Homo sapiens: one gene and its partner. The protein of the gene in region 1 interacts with the protein of each later gene in a biochemical or structural test. Each region holds a gene or a part of one and is shown in the gene's direction. Other genes may lie near its edges. The genes, in order: BMPR1A and USP15.

Region 1 (3,826 bases):
ACACACTCATGTTCATTTTTTTACATGTTGTCTGGCTGATTTTGCATTGTGTCGGCAGAATTGAATAGTTGTGACAGAGACCTTGGGGCCCACAAAACCAATACCTGTTTTCTATATCTCTGCTGTCTTGTGTGATAGCTACTAGCCAAATGTGGCTTTTGAGCACTTGAGTTGTGACTAGTGTGGGTGAGAAACTGATTTTTAATTTTACTTCATTTTAATTCGTCTACATTTTAAGTCACATGTGGCTAGTGGCTACCATATGGGACAGCACAGTTGTAGACATGCCACCTTTTCCCTAGTTCTTGCTTCCTTGTACTTGACTTTCCTTCTGCTGATGTCTTCCTGGTTTCTATTTAATTAATGATGCAGACTGTTGTTGCAGAATTCATTAGGCTACCATTGCTGATTATCTCATATGTATAGTGCATCAGTAGCCCATTGGTCTCACCAACCGTTTGCCATCTGAGTTCTGTTGTAGACATTCTATCTTAAGGTTGCGGCAGAGGGCATTTATTTGCTGTAGAAAAAGGAAGCCAATAAATTATTGGGAAAATATGAAAAATTACTTAGCCAGGAATAAAAATCTAGTAAAATCATTGATGCCAAAAATTGCTGTTGATGACAAGGACCTGTAAATGTGCCTGTGTATGGTCATGTGTCTCTTGTAACTGTTTGTCTCTTTGTATGTATATGTTTTCATTTTTTCCTGAGATGTTATACTTAAACATGTAAGCTATTAAATATTTTGTGTGTGTTTGTTTTGAAATATAACCTATACCCCCAGTCCACCCCAGGGCTCGTAGTTTATTCTTTGTAAATACACGGGACTTGTGGGTGGCGAGAGATTGACATGTTCAGAACTGACAGAAGGCCATGTGCCAAGTAAAGTGATGATGGTGAGGCCTGCAGGACCCAGATCCTGTTGGGCCCTGGGAGCACACAGTGGAGGTTGGATTTTATTCTGAGTGCATTGTGGAGCCATTGATTGGTTTTATATAGGAGTGACAGATTTGTGTTTATAAAATGTCTCTGGCTGCTCTGTGGAAAATGGATTGCAGGGACCAAGAGCAGAAGCAGAGGGAACAGTTGGAGACTTCTTACCTTAGTAGAGGCATGATGTGATGGGCCTTGGTGACAACAGCGGAGTTGGAGAAAAATGAAAACAATTGACATACATTTTGGAGGTTGAGCCAAAAGACTTTGGTAAGACCAGGTTTGAGGCAAATCAAGAGTTCATTTAAGACAAGTCAGTCAGGAGATGTCTAAGCAGGTCATGGCTAGAGGGGGTACATCCAGGAACCATCAACAGAGTGGGCGCTGTCCCCTAGGGAGAGCACAGAGAGGCTCTTTCCTGTTACTTTTCTTTGTATTCAATATCTGCTTGGTGAAATCTTGCAAGTTTTTAAGATGTAGCTTAGATTTCATTACTTTTGACACCTAAGATCAGTTTGAGTTTGACACCTAGGATGAGCCTTTTCCTTTGTTTACATGTAAACACCTCCGTATTTTGTCACTTTTTTTTTTTTTTTTTTTTGAGATGGATTTTCGCTCTTGTCGCCCAGGCTGAAGTGCAATGGCTTGATCTCTGTTCACTGCAACCTCCACCTCCCAGGTCAAGTGATTGTCCTGCCTCAGCCACCTGAATACTGGGATTACAGGCGCCTTGCCACCACGCCCAGCTAATTTTTTAATATTTTTAGTAGAGACGGGGTTTCACCATGTTGACCAGGCTGGTCTTGAACTCCTGACCTCAGGTGATGTGCCCACTTTGGCCTCCCAAAGTGCTGGGATTACAGGCGTGAGCCACCGCGCCTGGCCTTTGTATTTTGTCACTTTTCACATTGTATTTATTTGCTTTTGTGCTTATTCCCCCTCTGCTTTCCACCAAGTTTCTCAAGGCCACATATGTGGTTTTGATGCCACATCTTTGCGTTTCTAGCATTTAATACCTTGCCTGCACATAATAGACCCCTACTAAGTATTCTGTTGAATATTTGGCAATAACATAAGCTCCAGATACAACTACTGTAATTGAGTTTTTTGTCTCATGAATTCAAATAGTATTCTAGGAAGTTTCATATAACTTTGAGTTTTTTCATGTATCAGTGATCTTTTAGTGTTCTGATCTTTGTTATTAGTAACATCTTCATTTGTATACTATTTTACATGTAGTTAAGCACTTTAGTAAATATTCATTTGATCTACCTATAACCTCTTGATTTGAATTAGGCAGGAATTATTATCCCCATTTTCTATAGATAGCTGAGGTTCAGAGAGTAACTTATCTGTGCCCGTAACTGCGACTTGAACCCTTCACTTCTTGCTGTTATCTCAAGTGATATTTCTGCCACACTAAACTGCTTTTTCTGTGTCACTAGATTTTTGAAAAATCAGTTGCTGTGATATATTATATACTGTTTGTTTTCCAGAGCTGAATTGATACGTGTCTTCTGTTAATGTAATAGGATTTTAAAGCTGGTCAGGTTCCCTCACCTGTCCTCTAGTCCTGTAGCCTTATAGAGTAAATGAAGCCTGGAAAGGTGACATGGCTTGCCCAAGACCATCCAGCTAGGTAAAGCGGGGTAGGCCCATGGCAAAACAGAATCCCAGTCTCCTCATTTCCTGCTCAGTGGATTTCTTCCCTTCCTGTACCTCCTGCTTCCCCCACCCCATCTTTTACAGTTGATGTTTCTAACATAAAGGAGGTCTTTCCGCTTTGTAGCAATCAGATCCAACGGAAGCCTTGACATTATATTACGGAATTTATTTCTGAAAGGAGAGTGGTGTGGGGGGCGCGGGGATGAGTAATATATGTATGTACACAAACTTCCAGCTTTTTTTTTTTTTTTTTAAGTGTTTTCTCTCCTGGCCGGGCACGGTGGCTCATGCCTGTAATCCCAGCACTTTGGGAGACTGAGGCAAGTGGATCACTTGAGGTCAGGAGTTTGAGACCAGCCTGGCCAACATGGTGAAACCCTGTCTCTACCAACAAAATACAAAAAAATTAGCTAGGCGTTGTGTGGGGTGCCTGTAATCCCAGCTACTCGGGAGTCTGAGGCAGGAGAATTGCTTGAACCTGGGAGGCGGAGGTTGCAGTGAGTCGAGATTGCACCAGTGCACTCCAGCTTGGGTGACAGAGTGAGACTCTATCTCAAATAAAAATGTTCTCTATACTCATTCAGTAGCAAATTCTTTTACTAAATATTCGGTATAAGAAAGTGAAGGTTATTGGCCAGGCATAGTGGCTCACGGCTATATTCCCAGCACTTCGGGAGGCTGAGGCGGGAGGATCGCTTGAGCCCAGGAGTTCAAGACCAACCTGAGCAGTATAGGGAGACCTTGTCCCTACAAAGAATTTAAAAATTAGCCGGGCATGGTGGCATGTGCCCTTGGTCCCAGCTACTCCAGAGGCTGAGGTGGGAGGATCACTTGAGCCTGGGAGGTTGAGGCTGCAGTGAGCTCTGATCACATCACTGTACTCCAGCCTGGGCAATAGCGTGAGACCATGTCTCAAAAAAAAAAAAAAAAAAAGTGAAAATTATTGAAACTGAAGGCATGTAATCATCAAAACACTATTTAGCAGCACTTTTTCTGTTACCTGTGTGTGCATATGTGATATTTTTTGTCTTTTCAGTAGTTTATCTCATCAGTATGGTAAATGTAAAATCAAGTCTGTGTTGTGTCTTGAACCACTTATTTAACATTCATAATGAAATACATATACACTTGTCTGTTTGGTTCCACCTTTCATTCCCTTGAGAGTAACCCACAAAGAATGGCCTAGCTGAGTCAGAGAGAGGAAGTAATTACTAGAACAGTTTTT
Region 2 (3,826 bases), on another chromosome or scaffold:
TGCAGATAATGACTGTCTCATGGTAACTCGGGTAACTAACTTCCATACCTAGGCAAGTATAAAGATTTATTTCATTCTGTGTAAGTACTACAGTTTCTCTTTATTTGTAAGCAGTGAATGATTTTTATCTAAAAACTGATTTTCTAGAGATGAAAATAAGTTACACAAGTGTGAGATGAAGAGAAACATACTTTATGATGTATTTAGTTCTAGACTTTATATTGAGAAGTAAATCAAAATTAATACGAGAGTAATACCTTTTTAAAAAGCAAGAAGAAGGTAGCACTGATTTGTATAAGGAATAAAGCAGTCTCAAAATGATATTTGTTGATCTGTGTTTCAATTTCAACAAGAGATCAGAAAAACACGAACAAAATTTAGAGTTTAGGAACTATAGGAAAGAGATAAATGAACTAGAATTGTATCGCTTAGGATGAATTAAAAACAATTTTCAGATACATGGTGGTTTCTTCTGATGAGACAAAAAGATAATTTGCTTAAGGTACATATGAGTATTTTAGGAACATATTTAAGGAATGGTAGTTAATGAGTTACAAAGAAAATTATGGGTTATAAAATACTCTCTTTGGAAAAAAAGTTTTTGAAACAGAGTCTCGCTGTGTCGCCCAGGCTAGAGTACAGTGCGTGGTCTCGGCTCACCGCAACCACCTCCAGGGTTCAAGTGATCCTCCCACCTCAGCCTCCGCAGTAGCTGGGCCTGCAGGCACATGCCACCACGCCCAGCTAATTTTTTATTTTTAGTAGAGACAGGGTTTCCCCATGTTACCCGGGTTGGTCTCGAACTCCTGGCCTCAAGTGATCTGCCTACCTTGGCCTCCCAGAGGGCCGGGATTACAGGTGTGAACCACCTGCAAAATTTCTGGCCTGGAAATTTTTAAAGAAATGGGCCTATTATGAGTAAGTAAAACATAACCACAAATCATCCAAAGCACTGCTTCGTTTCCACCATTTTTATTAAATGTTATTCATCTGCCAATCATTTTCAGTAATTTTTATGTGTGATTATGTTAAGTGGTAATGTGTAGTTAACTTTTGCAGTTTAGCAAAACATTGCATGCCATTTTTGTATAAACCCTAATAACTGTAGTAGGTAACTTTACAGAGTAAGTAATTTGTGTGTGAAGTCATTTAAAATCTCTGTGACATTTTCATTTCAATAATTGCCAAAGAATCTGATCAGTGAAGTTTTAGACAAGAGACATTGATTTCAGTTTTTAGAGCTTTCTGTCCATTCCGACTTTTACTTAGAAATCTTTGAGGCTTAATTTTATTTGATCCCTTATGTTCGTGCAACTTTGAAACTAAAAGAAAATAACCTTATACTCACAAATCCCTTAATAATGAAAAGGAACACTATTACTCAACATGAATTTCAAAATATTTAGTGTATACTTAAAGAAATTTTTATATTACTATTACTTTTAAAATTAGTTTCAGTAGTGCCAGGGTGTTTACGACCAGAGTAGGGTATATACTACATCATTTATAGGAAATGAAACTAAAAGGAAAAACTTCTTCAGTCTTGGTAAATTGGTGAAAACAAGGACAGAGATAGTGACCTTAAGGCATGTTTCACATCTTAGATGCTTAAAAATCTAGGAAAGCAACTTTTCTTAATTTAAGCCTTTTTCGTAAGTTTTTAAATGACTTCTGTTAGTGAGTCCAGGGTTAATGTACCCTAATAGTCCAGGAAGGTCCAGAGCTAGTCAATGATTTCGTTTATCTGTTTTGTGAAATTAAGGCTTTTTTTCCTAAATTATACCATTTTCCTGTTAGCACATATAAGGCATTAAATGACCTTTTTGCAAAATGGTTTTGTGACAGTTAACAATTTTGCTTCTACGTAAGTGTAACAAGATAAAATCAGTTTGTCAGGCCATGACCTGTAATATTACATTTAAAAACACTATGTGCCAGGTACTGTTATAAATGCATATTGACTTATTTACTCATCACCATATTACCACAATTCTGGGAATCGGTGTTATTCACATTTGACAAAATAGGAATCATAGGCTCAAAAAGGTTTTCACATAGTGGTATAGCTGGGATTTGAACCCAAGTAGTTTAGGTCTTTGGTTTGTGCCCTTAAAGCACTGTACCACATTGCCTCTGATTTTATTTAAAAAAATTTTTTCTAGAGACAGAGTCTCGCTTCATCACCCAGGCTGGAGTGTAGTGGCATAGTCATAGCTCACTGTAGCTTCAAACTCCTTGGCTCAAGCAATTTTCCTGCCTCAGCCTCTGAAATAGCTGGAACTACAGGTGTGCGCCACCACACCCAGCTAATTTTTAAAGTTTTTGTGGAGACGGGATCTTACTGTGTTGCCTAGACTGGTTTGAAACTCCTGACCTCAAATGATCCTCTGACTTCAGCCTCGCAAGTATTAATAGCTGGGATTACAGGTGTGAACCCCTATGCCCAGCCTCTGTCTCTTATTTTAAAGATTCATTTTTTAAAAAGTAGATTCACTTTAAAAAGAAAAGAACCTATTTTTCTTTTTAAAGGAAGTCTATTTTATATTTAGTAGCAGAATTCTACCATTTGCCTCTTGTGACTGTTCAGTTTAGATATGATAGAACATGTAGGAAATCTTAACACCTTGCTTCTGGATATTAAAACATGCTTAAAGATTGATAGGTGAATAATTGAATGTACAGAGCAAATGTCATTTTGATCCACAAGTACATTCAGACAAAAAAATTTGAGGTCATTTACTATTGAGCTTTTGAATTTTAATTGTCTATCAATAATCATAAGCTCTTATTAGAGATGATATGGCCCCTTCACATATAGTTTTACAGAAATAACCCATGAAGCATATAGTAAGATCTTGTAGGCTATTTTGTTTCGGTACTTGGTCCATATTTTAAAAGTATGGTATTGGTTTACTATAAGCCACAAATACATACGGCTTTCTTCTTGGACTTAAATCCATATGAACCACTCAGCACAGAAAATGCAAATATGAATGCATTATTATGTTCACCAACTGATTTTTTCCCTAGAGATAACTCTTAAAGAATTTTTGAAGTGAAAGAACATTTAAATTAAGATAGTGGAAGATACAATGATAATAAAACAGTCAATTTTGCTATCTTAGTCTTGAATTTATCTTATGATGTGAGTTTAGAGTGATTCTTCTTTTTTTCACTGAAAATCACTTCATTAATAAGTCATGATTATTGACAAAAGTAAATTGAAACCATTGGGCATATTGGTAGGGAAATAAGGGGAAGATAGAGAACAACTGATAAAGGTTGATTATGTGCATTACGAGATTTGATCCTCAAAAGAAGGACCAAAATATATATATTTATATGACTTATAGATGAGGAATCTGAGAGAAATTAATTTGCTTGCTCATAGTTTACTACCAGCGGACATTTATTAAATGCTTAGTCTGTCGCAGCCACTATTTTAAATGCTTTACACTTACATAGCCTTTAAAGTACATGCTCTTATTACACTTCATTTTATCTTTGATGATTTCAGAGCTGGTTTAAATACCTGGTTTATAAAGATTTAAAGTACTAGATACTATCTAATACTAAGAATAGATCCTTAGTATTAAAAATGGTTTTATGCTGTCACTACTCGAATGTAATTCAAACAATATTTCATTAAACCATGGGAATTTCTCTTTTTTCTTAGTCCTTGTATAGAATTTTTCAACAATTACTAAATACTTTTTTTCTTCCCTGAGTAATGTCAGTCTAGCTTGTTTCTTTTAATTTCCTCACTTACCACTGTAATTCACATTCTGTGTCTCATATTCATTCCTCTGAAGCCACTTCGCCAGAC

The links.
Region 2: of the proteins of BMPR1A (region 1) and USP15, one has a biochemical effect on the other in vitro, tested with the Homo sapiens proteins (one study listed by BioGRID).

Annotation. Positions count from the first base shown.
Region 1 is NC_000010.11:86,885,312-86,889,137, forward strand, and holds part of BMPR1A (bone morphogenetic protein receptor type-1A isoform 3 precursor), read left to right. Parts: intron 1-3,826. UniProt on the Homo sapiens protein: On ligand binding, forms a receptor complex consisting of two type II and two type I transmembrane serine/threonine kinases.
Region 2 is NC_000012.12:62,263,404-62,267,229, forward strand, and holds part of USP15 (ubiquitin carboxyl-terminal hydrolase 15), read left to right. Parts: intron 1-3,826. UniProt on the Homo sapiens protein: Hydrolase that removes conjugated ubiquitin from target proteins and regulates various pathways such as the TGF-beta receptor signaling, NF-kappa-B and RNF41/NRDP1-PRKN pathways.